Homo sapiens: one gene and its partners. The protein of the gene in region 1 purifies or fractionates together with the protein of each later gene. This does not show direct contact. Each region holds a gene or a part of one and is shown on either strand. Other genes may lie near its edges.

Region 1 (5,407 bases):
AAACAGTTGAAAATCCAAAAAATTAACACACCAGAGAAATGATAGAGAGGGGATAGAATTAGTAGAGCTACATATTTGATATGTCTTTCAAATTAACTCTTAAACCCATGTCTCTACCTTGTACAATAGTCCCCCTTTATCTGCAGTTTCACTTTCTGAAATTAAGTCTGTGGTCAACCTTGGTCTGAAAATAAGTGAGTACGGTACAATATAATATTTTGAGAGAAGAGAGACAGAGAGACCACATTCAAATAACTTTTATTACAGCATATTGTTATAATCATTCTATTTTATTACTTGTTAATCTCTTATTGTGCCTAATTGATAAATTAAACTTTATCATGTGTATGTATATGAGAAAAATACTGTATATAGGTTTTGGCACTATGTGCCATTTCAGACATCCACTGTGGGCCTTGGAACATATTCCCTGAGGATAAGGAGGGACTACTGTATATAAATTAAAGATCAGTTGTTGGTTGACTTTAACCACTAAATAGATGAGATTACTGTCACAACACAGGCAACTCTAAGCAATGTTATGAAAAGATGTACAAATAGGAGATCTTAATGTGTGATTGACTAAATTAGATCAGTATTGAGTGTCTCTTTCAGAGGACATAGACAAAAAGGGTAAGCCCAGAGGAGAGACTGGGATGATGAGGATGAGATCCTACTTGACTATCAGCTTCAGCAAGAGCCTTAAATATTAAGAGACATACCTGAAGGCCGTGATATAAAAGAAAAGCCTCTCTCCCACCTCTAGAGGAAAGAACTGGACCGATTTTAGGGAAATGCATTTGATCTTAAATTTCATCACAGCCAGAACTATAAAATATGAATGTATTAGTCGATGAATTTTCTCATTTAGAGAGATGATCCTACATGACTCTGGGGGTACAATAGAGAGGACTGTATGTGTATAGGTAGGAAGCTGAGCTAAGCTTCTGAAATCACTTACTTTCAAGCTCAACATACTTTGATAATCATTTATAGTGACTCACAATCAATTCCCTTTAAGACTTTCAAAGTCACAAATTGAAACAATGCTCATAATGAATTAAGCCAGTCTGTATGTGTGAACCAGGGTGAGCAGAGACATGAAGTAAGCAACAGTAAGATTTCACCTAATGAGGTTGAGACTTAAATAAAAGGGCATGATATTGGGGAGGAATAGAAAGGACCTAGTCTATAGCTAGGGAGTAATGGACTACGGGGGTTGATGGAAGGAGGTAATGATCAACCGATTTATCAAGACCAAATTCAAATGGAAATTCTGATAATCCTAGTCATCTTATGTAATTTTCTCATTTGAAGTCACAACATGGACTAACACTTTCTTTTTTTTTCTTTCCAAATGTGATAGGAAAGCAAAGATATCCTGTTAGTGGATCTAAACTCTGAAATCGACACCAATCAGAATTCTTTAAGAGAAAATCCATTCTTAACAAACGGCATCACCTCCTGTTCTCTTCCTCGACCAACGCCTCAGGCATCCTTCTTGCCTGAAAATGCCTTTTCTGCCAATCTCAACTTCTTTCCCACCCCTAATCCTGATCCTTTCCGTGACGATCCTTTCACACAGCCAGACCAATCGACACCTTCTTCGTTTGATTCTCTCAAATCTCCAGATCAGAAGAAAGAGAATTCGAGTAGCTCGTCTACTCCGCTGAGTAATGGGCCCCTGAATGGTGATGTTGACTACTTTGGTCAGCAATTTGACCAGATCTCTAACCGGACTGGCAAACAGGAAGCTCAGGCAGGCCCATGGCCCTTTTCAAGTTCGCAAACCCAGCCAGCAGTGAGAACTCAAAATGGGGTATCTGAAAGAGAACAGAACGGCTTCTCTGTCAAATCCTCCCCGAACCCTTTTGTGGGAAGCCCTCCCAAAGGACTGTCCATACAGAATGGCGTAAAGCAGGACTTGGAAAGCTCTGTCCAGTCCTCACCACATGACTCCATAGCCATTATCCCACCTCCACAAAGTACCAAACCAGGAAGAGGCAGAAGGACTGCTAAGGTGAATTGTCTTCTCCACATATCCATTAGCAGAGTGCATGTTCGGTACCAAAGGGTGGTGTGATGCAAGCTCTCTTTCCTGCTGCTCTCGTAGTTTCCTGTGTTGCTGTGAAATAGAAGGTGGGATAAGGCACTTTGGTTCTCCAGGAGTACTTTCCTCTAACTGCCACCGTTTTTAAGCTTCTCAGCAGTGTTTTTCACACCCTGCTTTCCGTGTGCATGTCTTGTCACTTATGATTAAACTAAACACAAGTTTTTCCATTTTTAATGCTGCTATGCTTCTATACCTCTGGTAAGTTTGATCATCGTGTTCTGGGTTGGGAGGGTGAGAGTTCTTGTGATTCCCTTTGTACTTCCCTGACACTAACACATGCCCTGCACACCCATCATGTTGCATCAGTGTCCATGGTGGTGGTATAAAATTCTCGAGCTTATCTCCTCTTTTAAATACTGAGTAAATACATAAGCTTTTTCTAAGCTTATGTATTTACTATTACCACTATGATCTCAGCTTTATTTAAGAGCAATTTAAAATGCAGTTCCCATAGGTGTCTTTTTTTACCTCTCCTAAGAATATACAGGCTTGCCTGGATTAAGACCCTATGATCTCTATGTAGACTGACTTAAAATCCAATGGAATGAACAAAAATATTTAGGATGCTTATTGGTAGTTGCCCCTTTTACACACTTGCTCCCCCAACTTCAAGCATTTAGCGATGAGACCAGACCAATGTGAGTGTGTAAAGGAATATAGTAGATTTCACTTTGCAAGTCCTAGGTAGTGTCAGACACTAAGACTCAGTAGTCCGTCCGTTGTAGGAATCTGTGTCTTTTTTTGGAGGACTCTTTTTCTGTAGTAGTAGTTGTTGTTGTTCATCTGTCAAGAAAAAAGTTTTCCTTTTTGTGGCTCTCAAATTGGGGTATAGGGTAGGAGACAAAATGAGGCTGTATTTCACTGTTAGTGAGTAACTAAGGCTTCTCCCTCCCTCCCTGTCCTGTCAGTCTTCAGCCAATGACTTGCTTGCATCAGACATCTTTGCTCCTCCCGTCTCAGAACCTTCAGGCCAGGCGTCACCCACAGGACAACCTACAGCCCTGCAGCCCAACCCTCTGGATCTCTTCAAAACAAGTGCTCCTGCCCCAGTGGGGCCCCTGGTGGGTCTAGGTAGGTGCCTAGAGATAAAATTAAGTATGACTCTTTTGCTTTTGCTCATAAAATGATGATGCATCGGAAGAGATTTCATACTCCCAGAGGGTTTTACAGCATAAGATTTGAGCATCCCAGGGAGCCCTTCTCCCACTTCTACTATACAACCCCACATCCATTTGATATTCTTGACTTGTAACTCACATTTGGCTCCTCGAGGCAGCATGAGACAAGAAATTCATTTTCAGTATTGTACTTACTTGAACCAACTGGTCATGGTTTCCTGAAAGACAATTGTAAGGGATTCTAAACTCAGACCAGCTTCAGTAGCAAAACAGGGTTGACATAAGAGAGGCTTGTCTGTCAACATGCATGTCTTCCATGTCTTTTGCCATAATAGATCGAAGGCCTATGTCCTTTCAACACATAGCCCTCTTAGAAGGAATATATGCCCAAGAAGGATGTAAGTTAAGTCTGAAGCAAGAATAAGTCATAGAGTGAAAGTCCTAGGTTCTGGGCCCAGCTGTGTTCCTAGGTGTATGGTAAGGGTAGATCAGGCACACATCCTGATCAGTCTCTGAGCACTTCTGCCATAGGAGCTCCTTGCCAATATTTTGGCTAGCTTGAGTGTTTTACTGAAGCTAGAACATAAGTCCTAGAAAGCCAAAGTTGAAAAAAGAGAGAAATAAGGGAAGAGATGGAATTTTATCAGACAGCTAGTATGCATTGACGCTCTTAATTCCTAAATGTGTCATTAGCTTGTGTGAGCCGCTGATCACTCTGTGGTAGGACAGTGGGAAAGTCCACTTGACTGAGGGCTGGCCTTGCTATTCTTAGTCCATAGCCTATAGTTCTTTTCAGACTCCATGGTACAGTTTTCAGAAACCCTGACAATAGTTTTTGCTGTCCTGCTATGGACTCTATTTTTCTTCTCTTGGCACCTCTACAAACTCCAAATGGACTCTGGCTTGGGAGGTGGAGGACTGTAGACGAGGAAGGACTCTCCTCTCCTTCGGTAAAATCTGACCAGGGATCCTGGCTTTCTCTGCCTCCTGCAGTCAGTCATCAGGATCCTTGTTTTGTTTTCCTCTCTGTCTCTGTTGTTTTCCTACAAAGGAAAATAGTTTGGTTCTTTTACAAGAAATCTGTTTAATCATATCTAGAATAGGGTGGCCAGAGGAGGACTGTTACTCAACTGCTGAGTGGCAGAAATCCGTGAGGGTATGAAAAGCCAGCTTGTCCCAGGTCTCTGCTCGCATTTACCCCATCAAGAGGCTCTCTCTAAAGACTTCATGTCTCTTGGGGGCTTCCCCCTTTCTGCGTTGCTCTTTTCCTTGCACCCCCAAGTGGAGCTGGTTGGTACCCTTCCCTCACAGAAGACCAGAGTGCTTGCAATGCAATGTCTGCAGCGAGATCACATCACAGAGCTTTTTATCTGATATCAATGCCCTTAAGAATTTTTGCAGCCAATATTTAACAAGTCAGCCTGAAAATACAGCTGGACCCTATAACTGTTTATTTATTCAGACGAAGTGAAGCTTTTTGGCTAGGTGCCCCTGTTGAGGGCTTGGGGTATACAACTGCAGAATACTGATGATTGTTCCAAGTTTGGACATGGGACTCAAACTGAGCTCTACAGTATAGTCCCTGTCCACTAGCAGGGATCCTCAGCCAAACCATGGAAGGTTGTAGGTCTGGCTTCCGCTAGACCCAGCTGGGGGACTGTCTCCCCTGGAGAACTGGGGGGGTGGGGAGAGGGTATTGTAGAAAGCTGAGCCCTCAGATTCAACTTGCTTGTATTTTAATCTAGCCTCAGAAGGTAATAAAATTAATGTTCTATACCCATGTCCCCTTTTTCCTTATTCCTTGCCCCTACTTTGTCAATGTGTTCAATGTGTTCAATGTGTTAAAACACAATGTGGGGATTTGGTGGGTAGGAATGAAGACTGGTATAAGTATATACTGGGAAAGCCTTGAATTCCTGGCAAATGTAATATTTTTCTCTCCTTTTTTTTTTTTTTTTTTTTTGAGACAGAGTCTCACTCTGTCACCCAGGCTGGAGTGCAGTGGTGCTGTCTCAGCTCACTGCAACCTCTGCCTCCCAAGTTTAAGTGCCTCAGCCTCTCTAGTAGCTGGGATTACAGGCATGCGCCACCACACCCAGCTAATTTTTGTATGTTAGTAGAGACAGGGTTTCGCCACGTTGGCCAGGTTGGTTCTGAACTCCTGGCCTCAAGTGGT
Region 2 (3,512 bases), on another chromosome or scaffold:
TTGTCTTATAATTGTCTTTTTCCTTATGTCAGATGTTCTATGTCATAAGAATAAAATGGTTCACACCAATACAAGTACTTAGTTGTGGAAAGGGAGAGTAGAAGATAAAAATGGAGATTTTCCTGTGCTACAGGCTTAGTCAAGCTTATGGTCTATTTAATGGTTATCAAAGGCAATTAAATAGTGTTGAGTGTTCTGCTTTTACCTACATTTCATTTTTCATGTACTTAGTTACAAATTGAACCCTCTTCTATTTTTTTCCTGCTCCTGTTTCTGTTTCATTTTAGTTTTCCTTTTCCCTGATTATCATTTAGGCATGTAAGTGACACCCAGTAGCATTGCTTTAATTCTGCTGGTGACAGTGCCAAAGCTTTACTATACTCTTTTTGTTGTCTGTTGCTTTTCTCTTGCTAATTTGCTTGACTAGATAACTAAGAATTCAGGTAAGCATTAGCTCTTTGTTCACTGAGAATAATACAACTTGCAAGATAATTAATTTGGATTGTTCTACATGTATTTCGTTTATTTCTCTTTACCTTGTTCATTTATTACGACATTTTGAATTATTTACATACCCATATTTCTTCTTTCTTTTATGGCTCAGCTCACTATGCTTTTTTTTAATACTGGTAGCTTCCTCAAGGTTGGAAAACAAGATCTGAATACTATAGAAAATAATAACTATTTTTCTGTGGTCATATTAAAGATATAATGGCTTTGGATTTTGGGGTGATTTTTCTACTGTCAGTTTAAAAAAAACTTGTCTATTTGCATTTGTGTGTTATTACTTCTAGTTAAGAGTATTTCCAAGGAAAGTTTCATGTTACTTATTTTGTTTCCATGTCTTTTTCCAAAAGAACTTATTTTTTATATTATAATAAATATCAGTGGAAAAGTAGGTTTCGTTATATAGAAATTAACTTTAGGCTGGGTGCAGTGGCTCAAGCCTATATTTGGGAGGCCGAGGCAGGAGGATTGCTTGAACTCAGGAGTTCGAAACTAGCGTGGGCAATGTAGCGAGACCTGGTCTCTACAAAAAAAAAAAAAAAAAGAAAAAAAAGAAAAGAAATAAAGGAAACCCCCTTTTTTTGTTTTTTTGTTTTTTTTTGAGATGAAGTCTTGCTCTGTCGCCCAGGCTGGAGTGCAATGGCACGATCTTGGCTCACTACAACCTCCGCCTCCCAGGTTCAAGCGATTCTCCTGCCTCAGCCTCCTGAGTAACTGGGATTACAGGCGTGTGCCACCATGCCTGGCTAATTTTTGTATGTTTAGTAGAGACAGGGCTTCATCATGTTGGCTAGGCTGGTCTCGAACTCCTGACCTCAAGTGATCCACCTGCCTCGGCCTCCCAAGTGCTGGGATTACAGGTGTGAGCCACCACTCCCGGCAAGAAATTCACTTTTTAGACCTGTTCAAGAATACATCTATTGCATAAAGTGGAAAAAGATTTGTACTGAAATCCTTGGCCTTTTTCCATCAGATTTTTAAAACAAAAAGTTGAATTTGTATTCAAGTCTATTTTAGTAGTATTTTGACTTTTGTATAATCTAGAGCATTATTTCTGTATCTCAGGAAGCTGAATATGGTGGGCATGATCAGATAGATTTGTATGACGATGTCATATCTCCATCTGCAAATAATGGAGATGCCCCAGAAGACCGAGATTACATGGATACTCTCCCACCAACTGTTGGTGATGATGTGGGTAAAGGAGCAGCACCAAATGTTGTCTATACATATACTGGAAAGAGAATTGCATTATATATTGGAAATCTAACATGGGTAAGTGAAGTTAATATAAGAATTAAATTATTGGTAATTGATTTTGAACTGCTCTAGTAATTAATGTTTTTCTCCAGATTTTTATAAGTTTGAAGTTACTGTGTTTTTCTATATGTGTTTGCTTGTCCAATGAGGAGGGAAATACAAATATCTTTGCAACATCGTTAATTCGAATTCTTCTAGTTTTGAGTTTTGTGGTCATTCAACTTTTCTTGGTGGAGATACTAGTTAAATATAGTTAAATTAGTTTTGTCTTCAGTTACCTTTTTTATGCTACCACTTTACCTTGCTTCCGATAGCCCAGTTTCACTAAAAATAATGCTCACATGGGGTCTCAAACCAGGATTCAAGTGTAAAAGGAAAGAGACATAGTATCACTCCTGGTTTAAAAATAGTGTCCATTATTTAATTTGTGTTACAAATTTGAGTTTTATTTCTGCCCTTAAATTTGAAATCTGATTTATAGAAGCACTTCTGTGCGTATTATATTTTAATTTGGGTTGTCATGAGACTAAGATTATTGATTTAGAGCTTCATTAAATGCACATATGTATATTTATTTTTTATTAATATTACATCTTAAGTATCATTAAAATAGTCCTATAGAATGTTTGTATTTCTACTTAGTTATATGTATACTTGAAAGTTAAAAACTTGTATATGCAAAAATCAATAAAACTTGGCACCCTTGCATTTCCTTAATAACACTGTATTTTTAAACGTTTTATTTACATTTCTTTTTTTCAGGGGGAGACAGAATTTGCAAAACTCTGTCACCCAGGCTGGAGTGCAGTGGTGTAATCATAGCTCACTGAAGCCTCAAACTCCTGGGCTGAAGTGATTCTCCTGTGTCAGCCTCCAAGTAGCTAGGACCACAGGCATGTGTCACTCTGCCTGGCTAATTAAAAACAAAACAAACACTTTTGTAGAGCTGACTTCTTGCTATATTGCTTCAGGCTGGCCTCAAATTCCTGGCCTCAAGTGATCCTCCTAACCAAGCTCTCAAAGTGCTAGGATTATGGTGCCCAGCCTATTTACATTTCTTTTAAAACTAAATGTAACAGATCTCCCACCACCCAGTCTGAGTATTCTATAAAATTGGAGACAGTAGCAGTGTAGTTATGAAAGTATGGTTGCTAAGTAAGTATTTGGATCTTAGCTCCACCATCTATTATTAGTTTTGTGACCTTGTTAAAGAGTTAAAGCTCTTTAACTTCTATTGTATCATGTGTAAAATGGGTATAATAATAGTGCTTATATGGTTGTTATAAGAGTTAGTTGATACATAAAGTATATGGTAGATATTAAATACATGTTAGTTTTTTCTTATCTGCATTTTAATTCAAAAACAAGATGAAATTCAAAATACTTTCCTTTAATGGGAGGAAGTGAAATTGGTTTTATTCACAATTTAAAATCATAGCAGTTTAAAGCTGTAAGGGACCAGAAACTCTTGAGAGTCAAATCTTATTGTAACCCCAAGGGTATATACCTTCTAGTTTCTGAAATACTTATCAGGGAATGAAGTTAGGTTCCCAGATGGTTTTTGTGCTGTTTAAAAATTGGAGTCTGACTGGCCATAACTAGACTTAGATTTGCACTCAGCATTTATTTTCTCTTTTATGTCTCAAATTTCCCCTTAAAAACTAGACTGGGATAATAAAAATCTTGGTTTTATTTTAATGGTTAATGAGGGGGAAAATATCTTGCAGTGGACAACAGATGAAGAC
Region 3 (2,643 bases), on another chromosome or scaffold:
CTAGGATCTTATTTTAATATTAAACATATAAAGAGACTACATTTCAGCCGGGCGCGGTGGCTCACGCCTGTAATCCCAGCACTTTGGGAGGCCGAGGCGGGTGGATCATGAGGTCAGGAGATCGAGACCATCCTGGCTAACAAGGTGAAACCCCGTCTCTACTAAAAATACAAAAAATTAGCCGGGCGCGGTGGCGGGCGCCTGTAGTCCCAGCTACTCGGGAGGCTGAGGCAGGAGAATGGCGTGAACCCGGGAAGCGGAGCTTGCAGTGAGCCGAGATTGCGCCATTGCAGTCCGCAGTCCGGCCTGGGCGACAGAGCGAGACTCCGTCTCAAAAAAAAGAAACTACATTTCTAAAGTGAAGTATACTTTTAAAATATGAATAAGCTCTCCCTTAGTTGTCTTGACAAATTTAAATTGTTTTCTTGAAGCAGAGCTGTTGTTAGATATTTCTTCATTTTTATATACTTTGAAACATAACTTGGCCTTTGCATCTTTTTCAGGATGTTCTTGAGGAGAGAATTTCCCTGGAAGTTCAACTGGAACAACTTCGACCATTCTCTCACCTATAAGCCAATTGCCGTTAACTGTGAACATACTTGTTTTTAAGTGGTTTTGGGTTCAAAGCCAATTTGGAGACCTAGACATTCAGCTCACTGCTTAACTCAACATTAAATTTTATGATTCTGTTTTGCCCTATATGTTCACCGTTGTATTTAAGTATCTTTTATTTTTTAATTTCGACAATAAAAAGGTCAGGATGGCGTTTTCTGGAGGGTAGATTGTGTTTGTTGGCACACCCACCTTTTCTGTTCCCTAGCATCTGGGATATGCAATGCTTCTATGGCTAATACCACACACCAATTTAATTTATAGAATGGGCTCCTCATTTACATCTCAGTCACAGACTCAGAAATAAATTGTCAGTTTGTCCTTTTATGTTTAATATTTTACATAAAGCATCTATTCTATAAAAATCTTTAGAAAGAGTTTCCCATTTAATTTTGATTTTAAAGAATTATATTGGATAAGGTGGTTTTCACCATAAGCTAATTTACTCTCTGCAGCCGTCTACATTCTTCACAAATCATGTGGTACATTGAAGCCTCTTTTACATGTCAACTTGTGACAAATACAAACATGTGAGATTTTATATTTTCCTTGTGGAAATGTGATCAACTTCATCAGCGACTTCGAACTATTTTATGAGATTCAATAATTCAGCAGTCATGTAAACTTATGAAATAGGTATGAGTAATGGCCTTTCTTAATTTTTTTAAGTATTGTTTTAAAACTTCTGAGGATATCAGTTATTCCCAGAATAAAGGGAAATTCCTTAGGATTTCTAGTTTACCTTTAGCCATCTTGTCACTCATTCTTTTGCTATACAGACAAGTTTTTCCTATTAATGAGTTTCTGGAGTATGCCTTATTCAGGACAATATGCTGTTTTAGATTTTGTTTAATATTAAATGATATATACATTTCGATCCATTGCTAACAGCAGATATTCCCTTTAAGATTTATTCTGTCTATAGGATCATAGATTTTAAACTGCATGGATATATCTTGGCAGAATCAGAAGTGTGGTTTTACACCAATAAAACAGCATAATATTTTAACTTTTGTTCATCTTTTTAACAAGATTTAAAGTTTTAAGAAATAGAAGATTTTGTATTTTCATTTCTGAAAGAAAAAATGTTTAAATACTATAGATTCACAGTCCTAAACTGCACCGATAGACTTTGTTACTGTAAACAAGAATTTGAAGAACAAGGGAAACTGACAACCTCAAGCTTCCAAGATTAATACAATTTTTACCTGACAATATCTAGGTAAAAATATACATCAGCTGAAGTTTCCAAGTGGCTTTCAGTATGGCTTTAGTTGTTAAATAATAAATTTAAAGCATTAAAGGCCCAGGAAACTACTCAACACCTGTTTTTCTGAGTGTCTTTGTTTTCAAAGAAACATTTTTACTCAGCTGTATTTCATTACAAGCAAGTTTTGCTGTTTCCATTTAGTTTTGTTTTTTAAAATATGCTTTTTAAAAATAGCCTTCTAATTTAACAATGTCAAAAATATTTGTTAAAGCTTCTTAGAATTTAGCCTTCCAATAAATAACACTTAAAAATTATAGAAAACTTTTTAGTACTTTGTAGTGGTATATCTTTAATGCTCTCTAGAGGAGTACATTCATACTAAGGATAAGTGTGACAAGTTTTTGAGTAAATTGCCATTTGTATTTCTTGTCCTTTTTTTTTTCTTTTTTTTTTGAGACAGAGGTTCGCTCTTGTCACCCAGGCTGAAGTGCAATGGAGCCATCTCAGCTTACTACAACCTCCGACTCCCGGGTACAAGTGATTCTTCTCCTGCCTCAGCGTCGCAAGTAGCAGGGACTACAGGCGTGTGCCACCATGCCTGGCTAATTTTGTATTTTTAGTAGAGACGGGGTTTCTCCATGTTGGTGAGGCTGGTCTCAAACTCCTGACCTCAGGTAATCTGCCACCTCAGCCTCCCAAAGTGCTGGGATTACAGGCGTGAGTCATCATGCCCAGCCCTCTTATCCATATTTTAAATCAATAATTGTTTCATGAAAATGTTAAAAATGGTAAATCACCAACAAATTAAAATATCTTTCTAG
Region 4 (2,594 bases), on another chromosome or scaffold:
TCCCAGCACTTTGGGAGGCCAAAGTGGGCAGATCACCTGAGGTCAGGAGTTCGAGACCAGCTTGGCCAACATGGTGAAACCCTGTCTCTACTAAAAATACAAAAATTAGCCAGGGCTGGTAGCACGCACCTGTAATCCCAGCTACTCAGGAGGCTGAGGCAGAAGAATCACTTGAACCTGGGAGGCGGAGGTTGCAGTGAGCCACGTTCGCACCATTGCACTCCAGCCTGGGCAACAGAGTGAGACTCTGTCTCTTAGAAAAAAAAAAAAAAGGGAAACAAGGCACAGGTAGTCTTCTCCAAAGAAACGCCAGGATTCTCCAAGGCATTCTGAGTAAAACTCCAAGGGTGAGAACACCTGAATTTACTGTTTAGGTCTGAACGGCTACTTGATGCTGAGTTGCCAGGTAGCTGAGCAAGCTGCAGGAGGTGGGCAGAATGGCACTGGGCCTCAGTCGTGACCATGAGCCAGTCTGATAACTGCCATACATTCAAGGTAGTACATTCAGGCTGTATTTCGGACCTCTGGATCCGTGCAATGATATGTACATATCTACTTTTCTCCTTGTGATAAAATCACACATACTGCTAATGGCACTGTGGTTCCTTGATGACATTCATAACAGAAGGAATGCTGAATTTCAATTAGAGGTTAGTAATAAAGATGCATATTTTTCCCCTGCCTGAGTCCACAGACTCACTGAATGCTATCCACAGATCCCTCTGGGTCTATGGACCCCAGGATAAAACTGCTGTGTTAAACGTTAACTGGACAAAATCCTCTGACTCCACTGAAATTTATATATACAATAATCTGGGATCTTGAATTGCAAAGCACTCAAGTTAAAAAGAAATTTACATTCAAGATGTTATTTGCTTATCTAACAGCCAGGTTTGGTAGTTAATTGTTTCCACCTCATACCTGAGGAAAGTGAGAGTGAGAGGCCTCTCATCACCAAAGGTCACCAAGTCAGAGAGGAGCACAGATGGGGCTTGGTCACAGCTCTGACAACAAGGCCTGACATTGGCTCCTACACGCAAGTGGCCAGGCTGCTGTCTCACCAGGTCTCAGAGTAAACGTGATTGCAGGTCGATTCCTGAAACCTCTGGCTGGTGACTAAGGCAAGCCTGCTCCTCAGCTGGACAGCTGCCCTGGATGAGCTCTCCTTGCCCTGTGGATTCACTTGCATCCCTATCTCCTCCTGAGCTTCTCCACACTGCTAAGGCAGGAGTTTGAGGGCATTGGAAGGGAAAACCTTCTGACCTAGACTTTGGCTCCTGAAATGATACTACAACAGTAGACTCCCCCTTGCCCTAGGCCCACCTCCACCCCCACTCTTCTCCTCCGGCTTTTCCCTCTCCTATTTTTCCCTCCCTTACCCATTCCCCAAAATAACAATGAATTCCCCCTCCCACCTTCTCCTCACCAGGTTAAAACTTACCTCATTAGCAGCATCCCTCTACAAGGTGCATTTAACTATAAGTATACTGCCTGCCTATGTGACGACAATCCAAAAACCTTCTACTGGGACTTTTACACCAACAGTAAGTACAGAAGTTGTCCAAGGAGGGAACTACCCACCAGCCACCAGGGAGGAGAAACTATAAACAGAAACATGGCTGCGAACCGAGCAGGACCAGGACCTCAGGGCAGAAGGACAGAAGGGAGGGAGGGAAGAGCATGGGGAGAGCAGATGGGGAAAGCACCCAGGTTCTAAGACAGAGGCATTGAGTGCAAAAAGTTGATACAGGAGACAAATTTGCAAAGGATTTGGGGAAACTGAACCCCAGGGGGCAGATGCCTGATATGAGTAGAAAAGACAGGACATGGCCGGGGTGTCTGAGAGATGATCTCCGTCCCTGTCTTTTTCAGGAACTGTGCAAATTGCAGCCGTCGTTGATGTTATTCGGGAATTAGGCATCTGCCCTGATGATGCTGCTGTAATCCCCATCAAAAACAACCGGTTTTATACTATTGAAATCCTAAAGGTAGAATAATGGAAGCCCTGTCTGTTTGCCACACCCAGGTGATTTCCTCTAAAGAAACTTGGCTGGAATTTCTGCTGTGGTCTATAAAATAAACTTCTTAACATGCTTCTCCATGTTCTGTTGTATCTCCAAAATCTGCTCCTGAAGAACCCCAGATTACCTGAAATTTCTAGAACATTTGTCTTTCAAAGAACCTTTACTGAGGAGATTGTACGGGTTCTCACTGCCCATTGGTATGAAGAGGGAGAGAAGAAGAAACTGGGAAGAGGAGCTATGCTCACAGAGAGGAAAAGCAGTGGCCCTAAAGTTCACGGCACAGGAGTGGCAGAGCCAGGGCAGGCACCAAGCCTCCCTGTTGCTTGACCTCTCTCCATCCCACTGCCCTCCAGCAACAGCTCAGATCCCAGAAGACAGGAGTCCTGTTGCATGCAGCAGAGTCAGGGATGGAGTCCATGGCCCCCTAAATGAGCAGTAGCATTCTATGCTATTCTGTTGCTTGTTTTCAATGGATTGTGACACTCAGGGATATCAGGGTCCTGTGCAGCTCTGCCTGAGGAGCTCAGGCATAATAGAGGAGTAAAGGGGCAGAGGGAGCCCTGAGGGGCT

What was found. Proteins that work in one complex are often made in the same cells at the same time.
Region 2: the proteins of DAB2 (region 1) and CPSF6 purify together in Homo sapiens (affinity purification with mass spectrometry, with the first as the bait; one study listed by BioGRID). This does not show direct contact.
Region 3: the proteins of DAB2 (region 1) and REPS1 purify together in Homo sapiens (affinity purification with mass spectrometry; one large-scale study listed by BioGRID and IntAct). This does not show direct contact.
Region 4: the proteins of DAB2 (region 1) and PIP purify together in Homo sapiens (co-immunoprecipitation; one large-scale study listed by IntAct). This does not show direct contact.

The regions. Positions count from the first base shown.
Region 1 is NC_000005.10:39,379,231-39,384,637, reverse strand, and holds part of DAB2 (disabled homolog 2), read left to right. Parts: intron 1-1,366; coding exon 1,367-2,020; intron 2,021-3,021; coding exon 3,022-3,184; intron 3,185-5,407. UniProt on the Homo sapiens protein: Adapter protein that functions as a clathrin-associated sorting protein (CLASP) required for clathrin-mediated endocytosis of selected cargo proteins.
Region 2 is NC_000012.12:69,249,557-69,253,068, forward strand, and holds part of CPSF6 (cleavage and polyadenylation specificity factor subunit 6), read left to right. Parts: intron 1-1,572; coding exon 1,573-1,782; intron 1,783-3,494; coding exon 3,495-3,512. UniProt on the Homo sapiens protein: Component of the cleavage factor Im (CFIm) complex that functions as an activator of the pre-mRNA 3'-end cleavage and polyadenylation processing required for the maturation of pre-mRNA into functional mRNAs.
Region 3 is NC_000006.12:138,902,993-138,905,635, reverse strand, and holds the end of REPS1 (ralBP1-associated Eps domain-containing protein 1), read left to right. Parts: intron 1-503; coding exon 504-572; coding exon of another isoform or gene 573-609; 3' UTR 610-2,143; downstream 2,144-2,643. UniProt on the Homo sapiens protein: May coordinate the cellular actions of activated EGF receptors and Ral-GTPases.
Region 4 is NC_000007.14:143,137,646-143,140,239, forward strand, and holds the end of PIP (prolactin-inducible protein precursor), read left to right. Parts: intron 1-1,429; coding exon 1,430-1,544; intron 1,545-1,872; coding exon 1,873-1,997; 3' UTR 1,998-2,094; downstream 2,095-2,594.